Regions from separate parts of the Homo sapiens genome. Here region 2 is linked to region 1. Evidence: fine-mapped expression QTL. A gene starts in region 1. The other region holds a variant in brackets. All regions are shown on one strand. Distances are from middle to middle. Region 1 holds the start of HOXA10 (homeobox A10). Region 2 has its middle 73 kb from the start of SKAP2.

Region 1 (5,375 bases):
TTTGTATAGCCTCCACTATCTCAAATATATACTGGACCTTCCCAGATGTCGGCCTGGGAAGTTGCTTTCTGCATTTAGCCTGGAGAGGCATGACTCTAGGCCCAGGTCCTGGCCCACTGACCTGCCACGGCTCATTATCCTTGAGGAAACCTCGAAGGTCTTGGGACCCACTTGCCAAATGACACAGCTTTTCTGAGAGGCATGGGCAGTGCTGAAGAGCAAAGCTTCCTTCCTAGGCAGCCCCCAGCTCTGTGGCATTTCCAGGTGGCATTGCTAAGGGCAACAGTCCCAGCCAGTTCCACCCTTCTGGTGAGCAGGGTAAGGACCAGGCAGATCCGGGAAGCTAAAGATAGGGCCACTGGCTGCGGTGCTCTGAAGCTTTTCTGCACTCAGGTTCGTCCGTCTCATGGGCCTAGAGGGTAGAGAATTTGCCTTGGCCTTGGGCGCAGGAGCATGCGAAGAGCGAAGGAGAGTTAATGATCTCTTGGCACAGACCCTGTCTTGATCCCTCTAAAGCCGCTGCTGCAGCTTCAAGACCCTGTCAGGCTGGAGAGAACTGGCTTTCTTATTCTCTCTCCCCTCCTGTTTCTCTCTCTTTTCTCTCCCTCTGTCCGTCTCTCCTTCTATCTCTCTCTTTTTCTCTCCATCCTCCTCCTCCGCACCCTGATGCTCAGTCCTTACGGCCGGGTCACCGTGGGGCGCCGAGGTTGAAGTGGCTGGAGCGCCGCGCTAGCGGTGGAGCGGCCTTCTGGGCCCGGAGCTCGGAGCAGCCACTGCCCGCAGCGACCGCAGCTGCTTGAATCTCAGAAGCCAGAGCTGGAGCTCTACCTAGCCAGCTCTCTCTGCGCTTTCAGGGTCCTCTCAGGCTCCTCTTCCACCTTGGGCTGGATTCACACTGGGAGGAAGGAGGCAAAGTGCCGCGTATGACCCGGATGCAAGAGTCTTTCCCAGCTGAAGGCAGCGGCCTGAGCGGTCTATTTCCTGGGATGCCGGCGTTCAGTAATGCCAGCTCCGACTGGGGCCGGAGGGGCGGGCAGGCCTAGAGTATCCTGGAGACCTGTAGCCCACGGGCCAGGGGCAAGGCAGCGACCTCCCGGGCTCCACTGGATCTGGCCGGAAAAGGTTGCATTTCCTGAGACTAGCATGAGGCTCACACTTGGGGGCTAGCACCCCAGGCCGGCCATTTCCAGTTGGCTAAAACAGAGCCCCTGAGCCTGCTGAGCAAAGGGCCTGACCTCCACATGCTCTTATAACAGGACCATGAGCCCAGCCCGGCCTTGCAGGGAAAGGATTTCCTCACCGAGGCCTCGTTAAAATGCACACACTGCAGGAGCAAGGACTGCCCTAGCTGAGGGTATGGGAGGGAGGGGAAGAGGGGAGGGGACAGAGAGGTAGGAGTGTAGTGACACTGGTTCTTGTTGTAGCCTCCAGGAGCATATGAGTGCCAAAGCTAACAGGAGAGCAGGAACATAAAGCAGCGGAGGTGTACACCGGGCACACCCCTCCAAGTCTCTCACTTTGGGCCAGCCAAGGACCCCAAGGCCAGCATTTTACTTCCCCGAAATGACTGTGGGCTTAGAGTCTTCCCTAGGTGATGAGGGGATGCTTGGATCTGGCTCTGGCCTTGGGAGTGGGAGTGGGGCCGTCTTTCCATCAAGGCTGGCAGCCGCTTCCCACCCCCAGTCCCGCCAGCCCACCAAAGTCCACTGACAGGAGTTGTAGAGAAGGCAAGCCGGGTGAGCACAACACCAGAGGAGAAGATCCTAACTGGATCAACGGACTAGGGGAGAAAAGTGTTGGGGGTTAGGGGCTAGGGAACAACCACTGCATTTTGGGGAAAAATCTGTGGATACTGGAAGTAGAGGCAAGTCAGCTTCTAGTTCACTCTGGGCTCCTGACACTCTGAGGATCCTGACGGCCATAGGGCCAGGTTCGCCACTTTTGAGGAGGCAGAATTCAGACAAGGGGCCAGTTCCAGATCCAGAGCTGAATGGGAAGCGCGTGAGTCCCCGACACGGCCGCTTCAGTGGTTAGAGTACACCGGGGACTAGTGGCAGCTTCTGCGACAGGGATGGTGAGCACCCAAGGCAGACTGGGCGCGCACCATAAACACCCCACTTGTTAACTGCGCGGGGCCCAAGGGCCCTTCTAAGGGACCCCGGTATGGGGCTCACGTCCGGGTAGGGGCGGGGCGAGCCCAATGGCCAGGCCCCCCACCAGCCACGTTGGGGCAGCCCCCACAGCTCCCGGCCTTCGGGCCAAGGTGTCGGGGTGCGTCTCCTGGCCCATCAATACAGATTACATATTTATATCAATCGCGGGCTCTGAGGGCGCCCTCGGAGAGCGGCCCCGCGCCTACGAAACCAAACTGGGAGTGGTCGCGCGGAAACTCTGGCTCGGGATTGGCTGCGGGCGCCCGCCGCGGTGCGGGGGGATTGCTAATCGTATTCAGCATGTTTTGCACAAGAAATGTCAGCCAGAAAGGGCTATCTGCTCCCTTCGCCAAATTATCCCACAACAATGTCATGCTCGGAGAGCCCCGCCGCGAACTCTTTTTTGGTCGACTCGCTCATCAGCTCGGGCAGAGGCGAGGCAGGCGGCGGTGGTGGTGGCGCGGGGGGCGGCGGCGGTGGCGGTTACTACGCCCACGGCGGGGTCTACCTGCCGCCCGCCGCCGACCTGCCCTACGGGCTGCAGAGCTGCGGGCTCTTCCCCACGCTGGGCGGCAAGCGCAATGAGGCAGCGTCGCCGGGCAGCGGTGGCGGTGGCGGGGGTCTAGGTCCCGGGGCGCACGGCTACGGGCCCTCGCCCATAGACCTGTGGCTAGACGCGCCCCGGTCTTGCCGGATGGAGCCGCCTGACGGGCCGCCGCCGCCGCCCCAGCAGCAGCCGCCGCCCCCGCCGCAACCACCCCAGCCAGCGCCGCAGGCCACCTCGTGCTCTTTCGCGCAGAACATCAAAGAAGAGAGCTCCTACTGCCTCTACGACTCGGCGGACAAATGCCCCAAAGTCTCGGCCACCGCCGCCGAACTGGCTCCCTTCCCGCGGGGCCCGCCGCCCGACGGCTGCGCCCTGGGCACCTCCAGCGGGGTGCCAGTGCCTGGCTACTTCCGCCTTTCTCAGGCCTACGGCACCGCCAAGGGCTATGGCAGCGGCGGCGGCGGCGCGCAGCAACTCGGGGCTGGCCCGTTCCCCGCGCAGCCCCCGGGGCGCGGTTTCGATCTCCCGCCCGCGCTAGCCTCCGGCTCGGCCGATGCGGCCCGGAAGGAGCGAGCCCTCGATTCGCCGCCGCCCCCCACGCTGGCTTGCGGCAGCGGCGGGGGCTCGCAGGGCGACGAGGAGGCGCACGCGTCGTCCTCGGCCGCGGAGGAGCTCTCCCCGGCCCCTTCCGAGAGCAGCAAAGCCTCGCCGGAGAAGGATTCCCTGGGTAAGCAGGGCTGCAGAGGGCTGCAGTCAGGCGGGCAGACAGGCAGACACAAGGAGGAGAAGGATCAGAAAACTAGGAGCCCGCGCAGCAGCCGGCCGGCCTTGGCCCAAGCTGCAGGCAGGCTGACCTTGTGAACTTGCTTTTTAATATTTGGGCGTGGGGACGCAGTAAAATTCATGTCCGGCTTAGCGCCCCACAGCAAGACGTCCTCGGCGCTGGCCTCAGCTCCCCCTGACTAGGGACGAGGACACCAGCGAGCAGGCCCCCTCCTGTGCGCTCTTTCCTGTGGCCGGGAGGACCCAGAGCCCTGGTCCCTGCCCAGCCTGCGCGGCGCGGCCCACGCGGGGGGAGGGGGAGGGAGGGAAAGTAGCTCGCCCGCAGATAGCGCGGATGTTTGTAAGGCATCCAAAATAAGCAGCCGCCAGCGCCAATAAATAAGCCCATTAACCGGCGAAGTTCGAGTTTACGATCCCCCATGCTTTTTTCAAAGTTGCTGAGGGGCGGGAATCTTCGTTGCGGGAAGAAGAAAAGGCAAATCCGGCCTGGAAGCGGGGGGCCCTGAGCTGAGAGCCAGAGAAGGGCCATTTCCCTTCCCCTGGACCTCGGAATCGCCCAGCTATCTATCCCTGGCTCCTGGAGAAACTTGAGGGAGGGCCCTTGACCCCCGAATCGGTTTTTCCTGCCTTCCCCATTGGACCAATGATGCCCTTCTTTCTCCCCTTATCGAGTCTTGGGCAATCAGGGCCCTGGGGTGAGACAGCCAAGCTGCCTGGCCCATCTTCCAAGTAAGCACCCCGCGCTCCTAGCCTGGGGGCTACAGGAAATGCTTGTCTGCCATATGGCAAGAGGCAAAGAAAAGCGTTAAGTTCAAGATGTACAGCCTGCCCTCCCAGGCCTTTCCTTCTGCAAGCATCTACGGCTTAGCGCTAAAACAGGTGTTTGGAAAAGTGGGGGAAATGTAAATTGGAAGGGTCATGTAGATTGAAGGCCCACTCAATTTTTGTCATGACTTTTGGAGGAACTGCTTGCTCTCAGCAAGCCAAAAACGGGGGCACGACTCTCTTCTCTGTGACTTGGGACATCTCTCTTATGGGAGAAACGGAGGCAATTCACCCCCGCGGGCAGCCCGTGTGGCCTCGACTTAATCATCCCCTCTTTATTCTCTTACATGCCAGGCAATTCCAAAGGTGAAAACGCAGCCAACTGGCTCACGGCAAAGAGTGGTCGGAAGAAGCGCTGCCCCTACACGAAGCACCAGACACTGGAGCTGGAGAAGGAGTTTCTGTTCAATATGTACCTTACTCGAGAGCGGCGCCTAGAGATTAGCCGCAGCGTCCACCTCACGGACAGACAAGTGAAAATCTGGTTTCAGAACCGCAGGATGAAACTGAAGAAAATGAATCGAGAAAACCGGATCCGGGAGCTCACAGCCAACTTTAATTTTTCCTGATGAATCTCCAGGCGACGCGGTTTTTTCACTTCCCGAGCGCTGGTCCCCTCCCTCTGTCTTCAGGCTCTGCCCAGGAACTCGCACCTGTGCTGGAGCCCTGTTCCTCCCTCCCACACTCGCCATCTCCTGGGCCGTTACATCTGTGCAGGGCTGGTTTGTTCTGACTTTTTGTTTCTTTGTGTTTGCTTGGTGCTGGTTTATTTGTTGTTTTCTGGGGGAAAAAGCCATATCATGCTAAAATTCTATAGAGATAGATATTGTCCTAAGTGTCAAGTCCTGACTGGGCTGGGTTTGCTGTCTTGGGGTCCCACTGCTCGAAATGGCCCCTGTCTTCGGCCGAGCTGGTTTCCTGCCCAGCCTGGGGCAAACCTAGCCGGAAGGCCGAGGTCCCATTGTTGGCGCTGAGGTGTCTGGCCTGAGGTCAATGGTGCAAAGGAGCCGCCACCGGGCATGTCTGCCTGGAGTGCTGTGCTGTGTTTAATCAGGGGATACAGGCCC
Region 2 (5,375 bases), 240 kb after region 1:
GGAAACTGTGTTGTGATAAAGAAAGCTCTTAATTGGCCGGGCACGATGGCTCACACCTGTAATCCCAGCACTTTGGGAGGCTGAGGCGGGCGGATCACCTGAGATCAGGAGTTCGAGACCAGCCTGGCTAACATGGAGAAAACTCATCTCTACTAAAAATACAAAAATTAGCTGGGCATGGTGGCAGGCGCCTGTAATCCCAGCTACTCGGGAGGCTGAGGCAGGAGAATTGCTTGAACCCAGGAGGTGGAGGTTGCAGTGAGCCGAGATCACGCCACTGCACTCCAGCCTGGGCGACAAGAGTGAAACTTCACCTAAAGAAAGAAAGAAAAAAAAGCCATAATGAAGGGTCTGAAGACAGGTGCTACTCTTGGTTCTTATAATTAATTCTGTGCTATTATGCAGCTCTCTTAACTCCTTTCACCTTAAAAAAAATCACTGTGTTGAGGACCATCTAGTAGTGAATGCAAAGACAGGAATGCCCTGGGAGGTGGGGTTAGTTTCATGTCCATAGGTTTGCTCTGCAGAATCAAGATCTGTGGGATCCAGTTAAATTTAAGAACATGGGCTAAATTCTCAGTATTTTAAACAGGACTTCTTGTTTTTTACTTAACCTAATTAGCTGGATAATCTTGGAAAATTTTCTTAACTATTCTTGGTCTTACTTTTCTTGTCCATGAAATAGGATATTAGATTCCCAATTCCCAAACTGTGACCAAGGTGCCTTGGGGTGCTACAGTTAACTCACAAGGGTGTTGCAGGACATTTTAAAATTTCAAGGGAAATAGAATGATACTTGATGTTTTTCAGACACCAGGCAAAACAACAGCTTGCAATAGTTCACAACATTAGCTCACACTACATGTCTTTCAATGCCATCTCTTTGTAAAGCTGGATTTTTGGTCATTGCTATGATAAAAACAAGTACTATGTAGAAATCAGTGTAGAACGAGAAAGAAGGGAGTGCAGTTTAATTCCAGCGTTTGAGATGTGAGTGCTGAAGAGGGGTACATATCTCATTAGGAAGTAATTGTGGCTGTTTAGAAGTTAAGTAAAAATATGATTTGGTTTTAATTTGTTTGTGTGGCTATGTGTGTGTGTGTGTAAGACCACCTCCTAAGTTATCAGAACCCAAATACTTACTAAGTATTTGGACCTAACTACTTAATTAATGAGACTGTTAGTTATTTCTTTTGGCCTAGGGGCACTATGAAAAATTACTTAAGACATTTATAGTGCTATGACCTGGGAAAGTTTGGGTACCTCTGGTCTAGATAATCTTTAAGATTTTCCCCAAATTGCTTTATTTTACAGCAGCTTCCAGCCCCAGAACTATCCCTAGAAAATGATTAACAGGCTAATGCTTGTTAAGATGTTACAGGAAAGAGAAAGCTAGAATGTGACTCAGAGGAGTAGTCTGGGCTGCAGTGCACACCTAAGGGTAAGGACAGTCTAGTTCTGACAACTTTTTCATGGGAGTGAGTGGAAAGTCTCTTTCTAGATCACTCTTTGGTCACAATATGTATCATTTTAGGGGAGTATGTGCCCCAAAGATTTTCCTTCCTATTTTCAAATTTAGAGTTAGGTTACTAACTATTAAGAATATCTCCCTCTTGCTGAGAGAGCTTCCCTACTGGGTCACAAGATAGATTCTCAGCCAAGGGGTTGTTCCTGGCAAGTTAAACTGGAACTTGGAATACATTTACATGTAGAACAATGTTACGAATATTTTATATAGTTCAATCAGTCCAATTTATAGCATTTATCAAATGTTCAGGAATATGTTTATGACATTTAGATTTTTGGCTTTCTATGGATGAAACATACAAGTGACTTACCAAAATCTTTTCCTGGAAATGCTTGTTAAACACACTCATTGCACCATTAGAAGCTTTCTTACAGTACCTTTTCCAAACTATTAACTTTATAAAAGAGGCCAAATTCCCCAGAGCAAACAACCAACCAGAACTCTGGAAAAACCAAACAAACTATAATGTTCAGATATGCTGACTGATTAGAAAAAGAAAATTGTGTTTATATCAAGAAAGCTTTGAATGGTTTAATGAAAATATTAATAATAATGAGTTGCTAAGTTGCTGCAGGTTTAAGAAGCATTCCTTTGAATTGGTTTCTTAATCATGTAGGAACTCATTCTGAATGCAGAAACCATTCTCTTGTATACAGCAGTTTAGTCAATGAGGAAACAAGAAAATTAGGTGTCCTTTCTCCAAATTAAACAAATAATGCCAAGCAGATTTGGATGTGCAACCCTAAGTAGACACAGATGTAGGGCAAATATTTTCACCATGACCATTCTGCTGCTTCTGATTATGGGTTGGAATTTTAGATGTCATAAATGAAGCATCTTTTTTCAACTGAATCAATGTGACTAAGAATAAACATAAATAGGGTTCATATGATAAATCCTAGGTTTCTCATTTAAAATTATTTAAATTTTTTCCTGAGATGTATATTTTTCCATTTTATTATTATTATTATTATCATTATTATTTGAGATGAAGTCTCGCTCTGTTGCCAGGCGTGATCAGTGGCGTGATCTTGGCTCACTGCAACCTCCGCCTCCTGGGTTCAAGTGATTCTCCTGCCTCGGCCTCCCGAGTAGCTGGGACTACAGGTGCGCACCACCACCCCCAGCTAATTTTTGTCTTTTTAGTAGAGATGGGGTTTCTCCATGTTGGCCAGGATGGTCTCGATCTCTTGACCTTGTGATCTGCCCACCTCGGCCTCCCAAAATGCTGGGATTACAGACGTGAGCCACCACGCCCAGCCTGTTTTTCTTATACTTACAGTAAACCTGGTACTTTCTTATGCTAAAGAGAAAGATATGAAAGTTTAACTGACATATCTATAAATATCTTATTACATGTGTAATATATTTATATACCCTATATTGAATCAACATTTTTTTAAGAGAAACATTGTGTTGCAGTCAAAATAAAAAGCACTAAATTTGGAGGATCACCTGTTTGTAGTCTATTCTGTTACATACTAGCTATGATCTTTGTCAAGTAATTTAACTTTTCTGTGCCTGTTTCCTTATCCATAAAGCACTAAAAGTGATTTTGAGGCTGGCCACAATGGCGCACGCCTGTAATTCCAGCACTTTGGGAGGCTGAGGCAGGCGCATCACTTGAGGCCAGGAGTTTGAGACCAGCCTGGCCAACATGGAGAAACCCCATCACTACTAAAAATACAAAAATTAGCTGGGCATGGTGGCAGGCGCCTGTAATCCCACCTACTCGGAAGGCTTAGGCAGCAGAATTGCTTGAACCAGGGAGGTTGCAGTGAGCCGAGATGGCACCACCGCATTCCCGCTTGGGCAACAGAGCAAGACTCCATCTCAAAAAAAAAAAAAAA[C/AC]ATTTGGCTGTATGTAGTACATATCCCCTATACTGGTTCTTAAAATTTCACATTTAGTATTCAGGGGTTCAGTATGAAGCCAGATATTTATATATTTTGCTTGCTGGGTGTTTGCCTCCTCAACTCTTTTCTTCCAAGTTTCTTTTTTTTTTTTTTAATTATACTTTAAGTTTTAGGGTACATGTGCACAACGTGCAGGTTTGTTACATATGTATACATGTGCCATGTTGGTGTGCTGCACCCATTAACTGGTCATTTAACATTAGGTATATCTCCTAATGCTATCCCTTCCCCCTCCCCCCACCCCACAACAGGCCCCGGTGTGTGATGTTCCCCTTCCTGTGTCCATGTGTTCTCATTGTTCAATTCCCACCTATGAGTGAGAACATGCAGTGTTTGTTTTTTGTCCTTGCGATAGTTTGCTGAGAATGATGGTTTCTAGCTTTATCCATGTCCCTACAAAGGACATGAACTCATCATTTTTTATGGCTGCATGGTGTTCCATGGTGTATATGTGCCACATTTTCTAAATCCAGTCTATCATTGTTGGACATTTGGGTTGGTTCCAAGTCTTTGCTATTGTGAATAGTGCCGCAATAAGCATACGTGTGCATGTGTCTTTATAGCAGCATGTTTTATAATCCTTTGGGTATATACCCAGTAATGGGATGGCTGGGTCAAATGGTATTTCTAGTTCTAGATCCCTGAAGAATCACCACACTGACTTCCACAATGGTTGAATTAGTTTACAGTCCCACCAACAGTGTAAAAGTGTTCCTATTTCTCCACATCCTCTCCAGCACCTGTTGTTTCCTGACTTTTTAATGATTGCCATCCTAACTGGTGTGAGATGGTATCTCACTGTGGTTTTGATTTGTATTTCTCTGATGGCCAGTGATGATGAGCATTTTTTCGTGTGTGTGTTGGCTGCATAAATATCTTCTTTTGAGAAGTGTCTGTTCATACCCTTCGCCCACTTTTTGATGGGGTTGTTTGTTTTTTTTCTTGTAAATTTGTTTCAGTTCTTTGTAGATTCTGGATATTAGCCCTTTGTCAGATGAGTAGATTGCAAAAACTTTCTCCCATTCTGTAGGGTGCCTACAGAACTACCATTCTGATGGTAGTTTCTTTTGCTGTGAAGAAGCTCTTTAGTTTAATTAGATCCCATTTGTCAATTTTGTCTTCTGTTGCCATTGCTTTTGATGTTTTAGACATGAAGTCCTTGCCCATGCCTATGTCCTGAATGGTATTGCCTAGGTTTTCTTCTAGGGTTTTTATGGTTTTAGGTCTAACATTTAAGTCTTTACTCCATCTTGAATTTATTTTTGTATAAGGTGTAAGGAAGGGATCCAGTTTCAGCTTTCTACATATGGCTAGCCAGTTTTCCCAGCACCATTTATTAAATAGGGAATCCTTACCCCATTTCTTGTTTTTGTCAGGTTTGTCAAAGATCAGATGGTTGTAGATATGCAGCATTATTTCTGAGGGCTCTGTTCTGTTCCATTGGTCTATATCTCTGTTTTGGTACCAGTACCATGCTGTTTTGGTTACTGTAGCCTCGTAGTATAGTTTCAAGTCAGGTAGCGTGATGCCTCCAGCTTTGTTCTTTTGGCTTAGGATTGACTTGGCAATGCGGGCTCTTTTTTGGTTCCATATGAACTTTAAAGTAGTTTTTTCCAGTTGTGTGAAGAAAGTCATTGGTAGCTTGATGGGGATGGCATTGAATCTATAAATTACCTTGGACAGTATGGCCATTTTCATGATATTGGTTCTTCTTACCCATGAGCATGGAATGTTCTTCCATTTGTTTGTATCGTCTTTTATTTCATTGAGCAGTGGTTTGTAGTTCTCCTTGAAGAGGTCCTTCACATCCCTTGTAAGTTGGATTCCTAGGTATTTTATTCTCTTTGAAGCAATTGTGAATGGGAGTTCACTCATGATTTGACTCTCTGTTTGTCTGTTATCAGTGTATAAGAATGCTTGTGATTTTTGCACAT

The links. PIP is the estimated chance that this variant, and not a neighbour inherited with it, causes the effect. A credible set is the group of variants that fine-mapping cannot tell apart.
Region 2: its variant is the best candidate, but not a certain one, in a credible set for the expression of HOXA10 in whole blood (INTERVAL, PIP 0.57).

The regions. Positions count from the first base shown.
Region 1 is chr7:27,171,401-27,176,775 of GRCh38, reverse strand. It overlaps HOXA10 (homeobox A10), which reads left to right and starts at 2,456. Exons shown (of 2, transcript NM_018951.4): 1 at 2,456-3,427; 2 at 4,603-5,375. The coding sequence starts at 2,470. The coding sequence ends at 4,877. All of the region lies in intron 1 of HOXA10-HOXA9 (HOXA10-HOXA9 readthrough), which reads left to right. HOXA10-AS (HOXA10 antisense RNA) reads right to left here. Exons shown (of 3, transcript NR_046609.1): 3 at 4,861-5,375. RefSeq lists enhancers at 1,756-2,401, 2,402-3,048, 4,757-5,256.
Region 2 is chr7:26,934,419-26,939,793 of GRCh38, reverse strand. No RefSeq gene overlaps it. Among named protein-coding and RNA genes, the nearest start is that of SKAP2, 73 kb to the right of the region's middle. The variant C/AC (reference allele first, on the strand shown) is at 3,379.